Linked DNA regions of Homo sapiens. The protein of the gene in region 2 purifies or fractionates together with the protein of the main gene of each other region. This does not show direct contact. Each region holds a gene or a part of one and is shown on either strand. Other genes may lie near its edges.

The links.
Region 1: the proteins of DUSP16 (region 2) and AMER1 purify together in Homo sapiens (affinity purification with mass spectrometry; one large-scale study listed by BioGRID and IntAct). This does not show direct contact.

The regions. Positions count from the first base shown.
Region 1 is NC_000023.11:64,192,030-64,195,720, forward strand, and holds part of AMER1 (APC membrane recruitment protein 1), read right to left. Parts: intron 1,356-3,691; 5' UTR 1,258-1,355; coding exon 1-1,257. UniProt on the Homo sapiens protein: Regulator of the canonical Wnt signaling pathway.
Region 2 is NC_000012.12:12,517,768-12,521,458, forward strand, and holds part of DUSP16 (dual specificity protein phosphatase 16), read right to left. Parts: 5' UTR 3,332-3,691; coding exon 3,104-3,331; intron 2,234-3,103; coding exon 2,095-2,233; intron 1-2,094. UniProt on the Homo sapiens protein: Dual specificity protein phosphatase involved in the inactivation of MAP kinases. Dephosphorylates MAPK10 bound to ARRB2.

The DNA of each region.
Region 1 (3,691 bases), on a different chromosome or scaffold from region 2:
GGGCCGTGGATACATTTGGGCAGTTTCCCACAGATATTCTAAGTCATCATCTTCTTCCTCCTCCTTAACCTCCTCTTCTTCCTCCTCTAATTCCACCTCTTCTTCCTCTTCTTCCTCCTCGTCATCATCATCTGGCAAGGCCATCTCCTCCCCACCTCCTTGGTAGGTCACCAGGCAGGAACTTCGCTTGGTCCCATCTCGGTTTGCTCTCTGGCCCCCAGAGGCCATGCTGTCTGTCATACTGTCCATGTCCTGTTCTGCTATTATGTCACCACAACCTGTCAATGAATCAAAGCTTTTCAGGGATGTCACATCCCCAAACAAGAGGCTCAGTGGGTCCCCCACAGGGCCATTGGGTGGGTTTACCTCTCCTGCTACTACCTTCTCCCCTGTTTCTGGGCTATGGGGCTCCTCTAGGCTACTGGCTTCAGGGGCAGGCTTGGGTTGCACATGTGCTGAGGCACAGGCCTCCATGGGTTTTTCTGGATCTTTACAGGCCATTTTCTCAGTAGCTGGTGGAGAAGGTTCTGGTGTTGGAGAAACTTTTGGCCCAGGGGCATCTTGGGGGTTAGCATTTTCCTTTCTAGGGGCTTGGAAGGTCTCCTCAAAGCAGGGCACCTGAGGGGCTGAGCTCACGTGCTCATGAGGCCTGGCTCTGACCCTCTCAGGCCCCTTGGCCCCTGGCTCACTTTGCTCAGCCCCAGTGACCTTGCTCTTCCGGTGACGGCGGATACTGCTAAAAAAGCCTTTTAGGCCTTTCTTTGGCTTGGGCATAGAGGGAAACTTCTCAGCCACAGCTTTCTCTGTGGCTCCAGCCACAGATGTCTTACATCTGGAGCCTGTCTCCAAAGCCCCATGGGCACTCTGAGAGCTGGGAAATTGGCAGGGTAACTCAGGCAAAGGCAGGGAGAAGCCAGTTCCTTCACTGACAACATCTTCAGGGCCATGGGCTGCTTCACTCAGGCCATCGTGGGTCTTGCTCTTGCTGAGACCTTTCTTGGAGCTGCCTTTCCCAGAACCTTTGCTCCGTCCCCCTCCAAAGAAACTAGGCAGAGTACAGATACCCTTCTTGCCACCAAAGAGTTTCATGGCAGTTTTCTTCAGCCTACCTGGGCCGGATGAGGATGGCTCTGAGGTTGGTCCTTCTGTCGCCTCAGCTGCCTTGTTCTTGGCTCCTTTTTCTGCTGTTTGTTCACGGGTACTCCCAGAGGCTGCAGCTCCCTTGGCCTGAGCAGCTTCATCCTTTTGGGTCTCCATGATGATGGGGACAACTGAGGTACGTCCAGCTGGAAATGCAGCCTCAGGCTTCCAGGCACTGTTATAACATTATCAGTCAGGAAGCATCACAGTGGGGTCTGGAGGAGATAGGAGAGACAAAGACAGAGAGACAGATACTAGTGAGCAAGCATCCAGGCTGGGTTTGCTTTCACCGGACGTCAGGCTTGAGTGGAACAAGAAAGAAAATGATGGAAAATGTGGGGCAAATCTTAATCCACTCGATATGCTTGGCTTGCTGGGCCAGCTCTCTCTGGGCCCCAAGGAAGCAAAACTCTACACTGAGCAACAAGAAGCCTTCATCCCCTACCTTCTTGCTGGGTCCACTCCCTTCAGACCATCCTAAGCTCAGGGGACCACTGGGCAGGGGGACCTGCAGTTGTGTGAAAGGCCTAGTGGTGCTATTGGCTGTGGGAGGTATTATCAATTATCAAAGGGGATGAGGATAGGGAGAGACAAGAAAGGCAAAAGGGATGTTGGCTCCAACATCACAGAATTTTTGAAAACCATCTGGCAAAACAGTCCATTGAGTCCTCACAGGGCTCTGTTGGATTCAAGCTTCAGTTTCATATTAGTCTGGGCTCTCACTGACATTTTGTCTGAGACTGAAAAGTGGACCTGAAGTTTCACCTCCCATCCAAAGCTTCCTAAATTGCCTGCAGAACCATGCTCAGGCTTCAGAATCTCAGAATAGGAGCCTCACACATCCACAAAGTAGGTCTGCAATCTAGAACCTGCTAAGACAATGAAATGGGAGCCTCAAGAAAGGTACTCTCTGGGCTTCAATATTCGCCATTCAAGAGGCCTATCAATATCTCTCCCTCAGAGAGGTGATATGAGGGTGGGTCTAAGCCAGACCCTCTATTGGCTGTCCTGCTGGGAAGATACTTTAATGCGGTCATCAATGGAACCCCAAATTCCACTTGAGAACCATGAGGTGGACTGTTTCTCCTCTACTCTCCTCCTCTTATTATTTTTGTCCCCATCTAGCTCCCTATCTAGGAAGGGAACTCCTTGAAGGCCCTACATGATTCATATTCCTGGTGTGTGAGATAGGTTCCCAATGGCTTTTTAAATAAATAAACCTGGTGCAAGCCACACCCTTCTGGTCAAGGCTCTCAATCCTCCAAATGCCCAAATACCAACAGAGATGGAATAAAAACAAGACCTAGCCACTACCCACCACAATATACCTCTGCACCTCTGGTCATCCGCTAGCTCAGTGACCAGCCTGCTAAAACCCAATGACCCCTCCCTGGGAAGTCCCTCACCAATTTGTCCCCTCTCTGTAGAGTGGCACCAGCAGATGGGGGAATCTGGGAGGAGAGGGGAGAGGGGAAGGGGAAGGGGAGGGAAGGAAGAGTAAGAGAGGGAGAGAGAAGCAAGCACCCTTGGTCCAAGAACAGCTGGACAGTACACCAGGCCTGTGATTGCTTGCCATAATAATAAGACTCACACATTCACCTAAAGTGGAAGACTGTGGACCAGCACTGAGCATGGAAAGAGGCTGGCAGCTACACTCTAGCCTTGGAGCCCCTGGTTCTGTCTTGCAAACATTAATTTTGTGCCTGCTGCCTTGCTTGGCTTGACACTTGAATCATCAGTGTGATGATCCAAGCTTCCATAAAGAACACTCTGCATAACTGAATATTAAAATTGGAGCAAGATAACAGCTGGTTATCCAGAAAAGAAAAGAGCAGGTGAAAAGGAAAGTTCATCTGAACCTCTCTCTGCAGAGATCTGAATTGCCATTTGCTCAGGTTAGAGATTTTTCTGTAACATATTTTGACATCACACTGTTCCAACTCAGCCCTGCAACTGATAGTCCCACAATAGACAGTGCCCCCTCCCACCTCCAAATACACACACAATCACACCTAAACACACAATCACCCAGTTTTCTGCCCCTGGGTCTGGTGGGAATAGGGGCCCTATCATGTCTGAATGCCCCACTTTCCACAGCACATTTTTACCTCAGCCTTAAAATTACTGCTAAGGTTATCGTCACGGTGTTGGGGATAGGGGAGTTGGGGAGGCAGTACTGGAGTTGTTTGTGAAATTCTATTCCCCTCTGGAATTCAGTGCTTCAGGGCAGGACAAGAAGGGAGAACTCCCAGCCTTTGCTTCTAAGGAGCTCCTAGGCTAACAGGGAGAGTCCTATATGTAACAGTCTGTTAGAAACTGGACCAAACAACAGGAAGTGACCGGCAGGCAGGAGGGCAAGGTGAACATTACCTGAGCTCTGCCTTCTGTCAGATCAGCAGAGGCATTAGATTCTCATAGGAGCGTGAACCCTATTGCAAACTGCGCATGCGAAGGATCTAGGGTGCACTCTCCTTATGAGAATCTAACAAATGCCTGATGATCTGAGATGGAACACTTTTATCCCAAAACCTTCCTCCTCTCCATCCATGGA
Region 2 (3,691 bases):
GGATGAAGATATGGTGCTACTAATACATTTAATGTGGCTCCTGGTGCTGCCTCCATGGACTTGCCGTTAGGCCTAAGAAACACTTCCTGTTTGAAACAGGGATGTCAGGGTGTTCTGACTCAGTGTGTCACACCACGTGTCCCTAGAGTTGACATAGCTAATCAGGCAGTCCTGTTTCTTCCTTATTGCCCAGTGAATGCCCCTCCCAAGGCTACACAGGATAGATTAAGAACCTTCCCAGGTAACAAAGGAATGCTCTTTGGTAAAGGAGTAAAGGGTACAAGTAGCTAAAGCACCTGTGCTAGAAACTCAATGTGAGCTCACTCCTCTGGGGGGCTGTCTACTTGACCGAGATGTTGAGTAAGGTCTCCCCATAGGGTAAAAGTAACTCAAACAAGAACATGGTGGGATAACCACTCTGTCACGAAGCACATCTTGGCATATTGCTTCTTTAAGAAAGACTCTGGCTGGGTGTGGTGGCTCATGCCTGTAATCCCAGCACTTTGGGAGGCCGAGGCAGGCAGATCACCTGAGGTCAAAGTTCGAGACCAGACTGGCCAACATGGTGAAACCCGGTCTCTACTAAAATACAAAAATTAGCCAGGCGTGGTGGCAGGTGCTCAGAATCCCAGCTACTTGGGAGGCTGAGGCAGGAGAATCGCTTGAACCTGGGAAGCAGAGGTTGCAGCAAGCCAAGGTCACACCACCGCACTCTAGCCTGGGCGACAGGGCAAAATTCTGTCTCAAAAAAAAAAAAAGAAAAGAAAAACCCTGATCCCATTAACAGGATTCCAAGGTAAAGTCCCTCACACAGTGGCCACCTGAAACATGAAATGAGTTCCTAAACTCACCCAATTAGTTTAGTGAAATGCTAATAATAGCTGTTACATTTAACACACTCATACTCCCAGTAAAAGAATGTGTCTATCAACAGAGACAGAATCTAATATTATAATTCTCAGTTACAGACTTCTGAAAACTACATTCTAAGACAAGCTGGCTTCACTTAAGAACACTAATTGAAAGATCAGACGGAATCACAGCATAAATGAAAGGTGTACAGATAGACAATCTGAAAAAGATGAACTATCCTTGTTCTTAGAGAACTGAGGAAAAGCTTGTGAGAGAGAACTGGAGACATGGAAATCTTATCTAAACCTGCCCAGAGTTTAAAATTATTAACACACCAACAACTAATTAATCTTAATGTTTTGTTTTTCTTAGACCAAATGTTTAAAAGCACTCTTGCCTATCACTGAAGCTGAATCCGCCCAACACAGCAGCTTTATGTTAAGGTTACTGTGTGTTGTCAAACTATATTCCCAGCTCTATGAGCCCACAGGGCAAGGGAAAGGATTTTCATTTGCAAAACGAGAAGCAAAGGATGAATAGCCTTCTTTGGAATTTGATGGGATTAACTCCTACAATGCCGTCCTCCAGGAGAGATATAGAATATTTGGTCCTTCCCACACACTTTATAAGATCATCTGGTTGCTTAGCATTTCTACGTTGAGACTTTTTTTTAATTATAAAACAAATAAAAATATACAAGTAACTTTTAAAACAATTCCCCTAATTACCAGAAGAAACATTCTGCACACATTCTCCCCCTATTTCATTGTTTATAATGCCCAGAAAGGTGACCATAAGGCTTATCTCTGGAGTCCGCTCCAACTATAAATGTTAAGTAAGAGTTTGACACTGTAATATTGGTCTGGTTCTTGCCACAGGGGTGGGAACTAGCAGGAGCTGAGATGTTCATCATTTGGTGTTCTTACATCACAGGTGAATGGAAAAAGGCAGACAGAAGCAGCTGGCTTTGAGCTATCCATATGGGTGTGCAAATCTATGTGGCACTACCAGTTAATAGCAAGCAAAGAGGCACTTGAGCCAAGTCAAAAATACACTGACCTATGTGGAAGAATGATATAGTATTCAAGTTAAATAGAACGGTGACATCAATCAAAAGCTATAAATAAATCATTTTACACAGCAAAGTTGGGATGATCTATTGTACTGAGTTCACAGTGAAATATGCTTACTCATACAGCTCAGCAAGATTCTGAGTCCTTTTAATTCCATCACGAGCCTTACCTGCAAGCAGGTGAACAGAGTTGAAGCTCTTCTCCAGTTTACCCAGAAGTACAGTGAGAAAACAGTCTGAAGAGAGAGAGGCAACATCTTGGGAGCTTTGATCGTAAACTACAACCTTCTGACTGCAATCAATGTCAACCTGAAATGCAAACATGAGGCTTGTTAGGAAGAAGGTGAGAAAAGTAATCTCAAACTACTGCTTAAGATCTCACATTTACCAGTGCTGGGGCGAATAATTGCTTCCTGTTTTCAATTAATAATTTGAATAAAAATGAGATGTAGTCAATTTACGAGACAGACACATACAAAACTCTTAAAAACCAAAATGATGCTATTTCTGTGTAGGTGATCTCACGATTCCCTGGTTTTAAATCCTTTATACTATAAAATGGTAAAGTTCATAATAAACCAAACAATATGCAAAATAAACATAACCCTGGACCTAAACAAACTTTTTTTAAAATGACTTTTACACCTTAACAAAGAAATCAGTTGTTTATTTAAATTAAAACATGAGCTCATTTGTATTTGTGAAGAAAAAAACCAACTTCCTCACCACACAGACAACATTTTAGTATCCCAGGAATAACTTCCCTTGAAGATATCATTAAGTCTTGACCAATGTTACCACATGTGTTATGACACATAAAAAGCACCCCTAATAATTAGTTCCTACTTTCTTTCCAAAGAACTTGAAAAGAATGACTTTCCTTTCAGTAAATTTGCAGATAATATAGAATAGTGTTTAATAAAATCATTTTAGCAAGCCACAAGAAAATATAGCACTTGTCCAAACTAAAGCAAGTTAATCCTTCATAGTTTAGAAATATTATTAAATGTGGCAATATGGACAATAAATTATTTTGAGGTACCACAAGGCACCAAAATTTAAAAAGCAACCAAAACTTCCTCAAATTACTTTCTCTACTTAAAGAGGAGGCTTCAATTAAAATTATTCCTCATTCAGTGTGTCCATTTATTTTGAAAAGGCAAAAAGGAAAGCGTTTACCTTATGTTTCGCTGAATGCTGGATGAGCTCTGTAATTAACACTTTGTCCTGTTGCAACCTTCGCTTCATAAGCTTGGAGCAGTTGATATTAATGGCTTCCAAAATGTGGGATGTATTGTATTCCACAAATGGCCGGCTATCAATTAGCAGCACTTTTTCCGTTCCACTTTCCAGCAGAGCCACCAACCTCTCAGTAACAATTTGAGTTCCAATCATCTCATGGGCCATGACAACAATAAGTCCTCTTTTCCCACCTCCTTCTTTAATTTGCCACGATGATGTAATGGTGGTGTGCTCAAAGGCTCAGCCACTCCATTGTACTAAAAGTGTATGAGGTCAGGCTGGTGGTGACTGGCAAAAGGAGAGTTAAACCCATTTTCAGCAAGAGCCCTCCAAGTGAATGTCTCTTTCTCTTTCCCGTTGATGTGCTCTTGCAAAGGACTCCGTCCACAAAGCAGCCCCTCACATTTGATTCATAAAGAGATGACTGGAATAACCATTCCACAACAAAAGATGCTTTGGAGCAGCCAGCGCATTACATCATTCTTTACCTTTGCTCCCGCGCTCCAACAGCTTTACACTGGACTG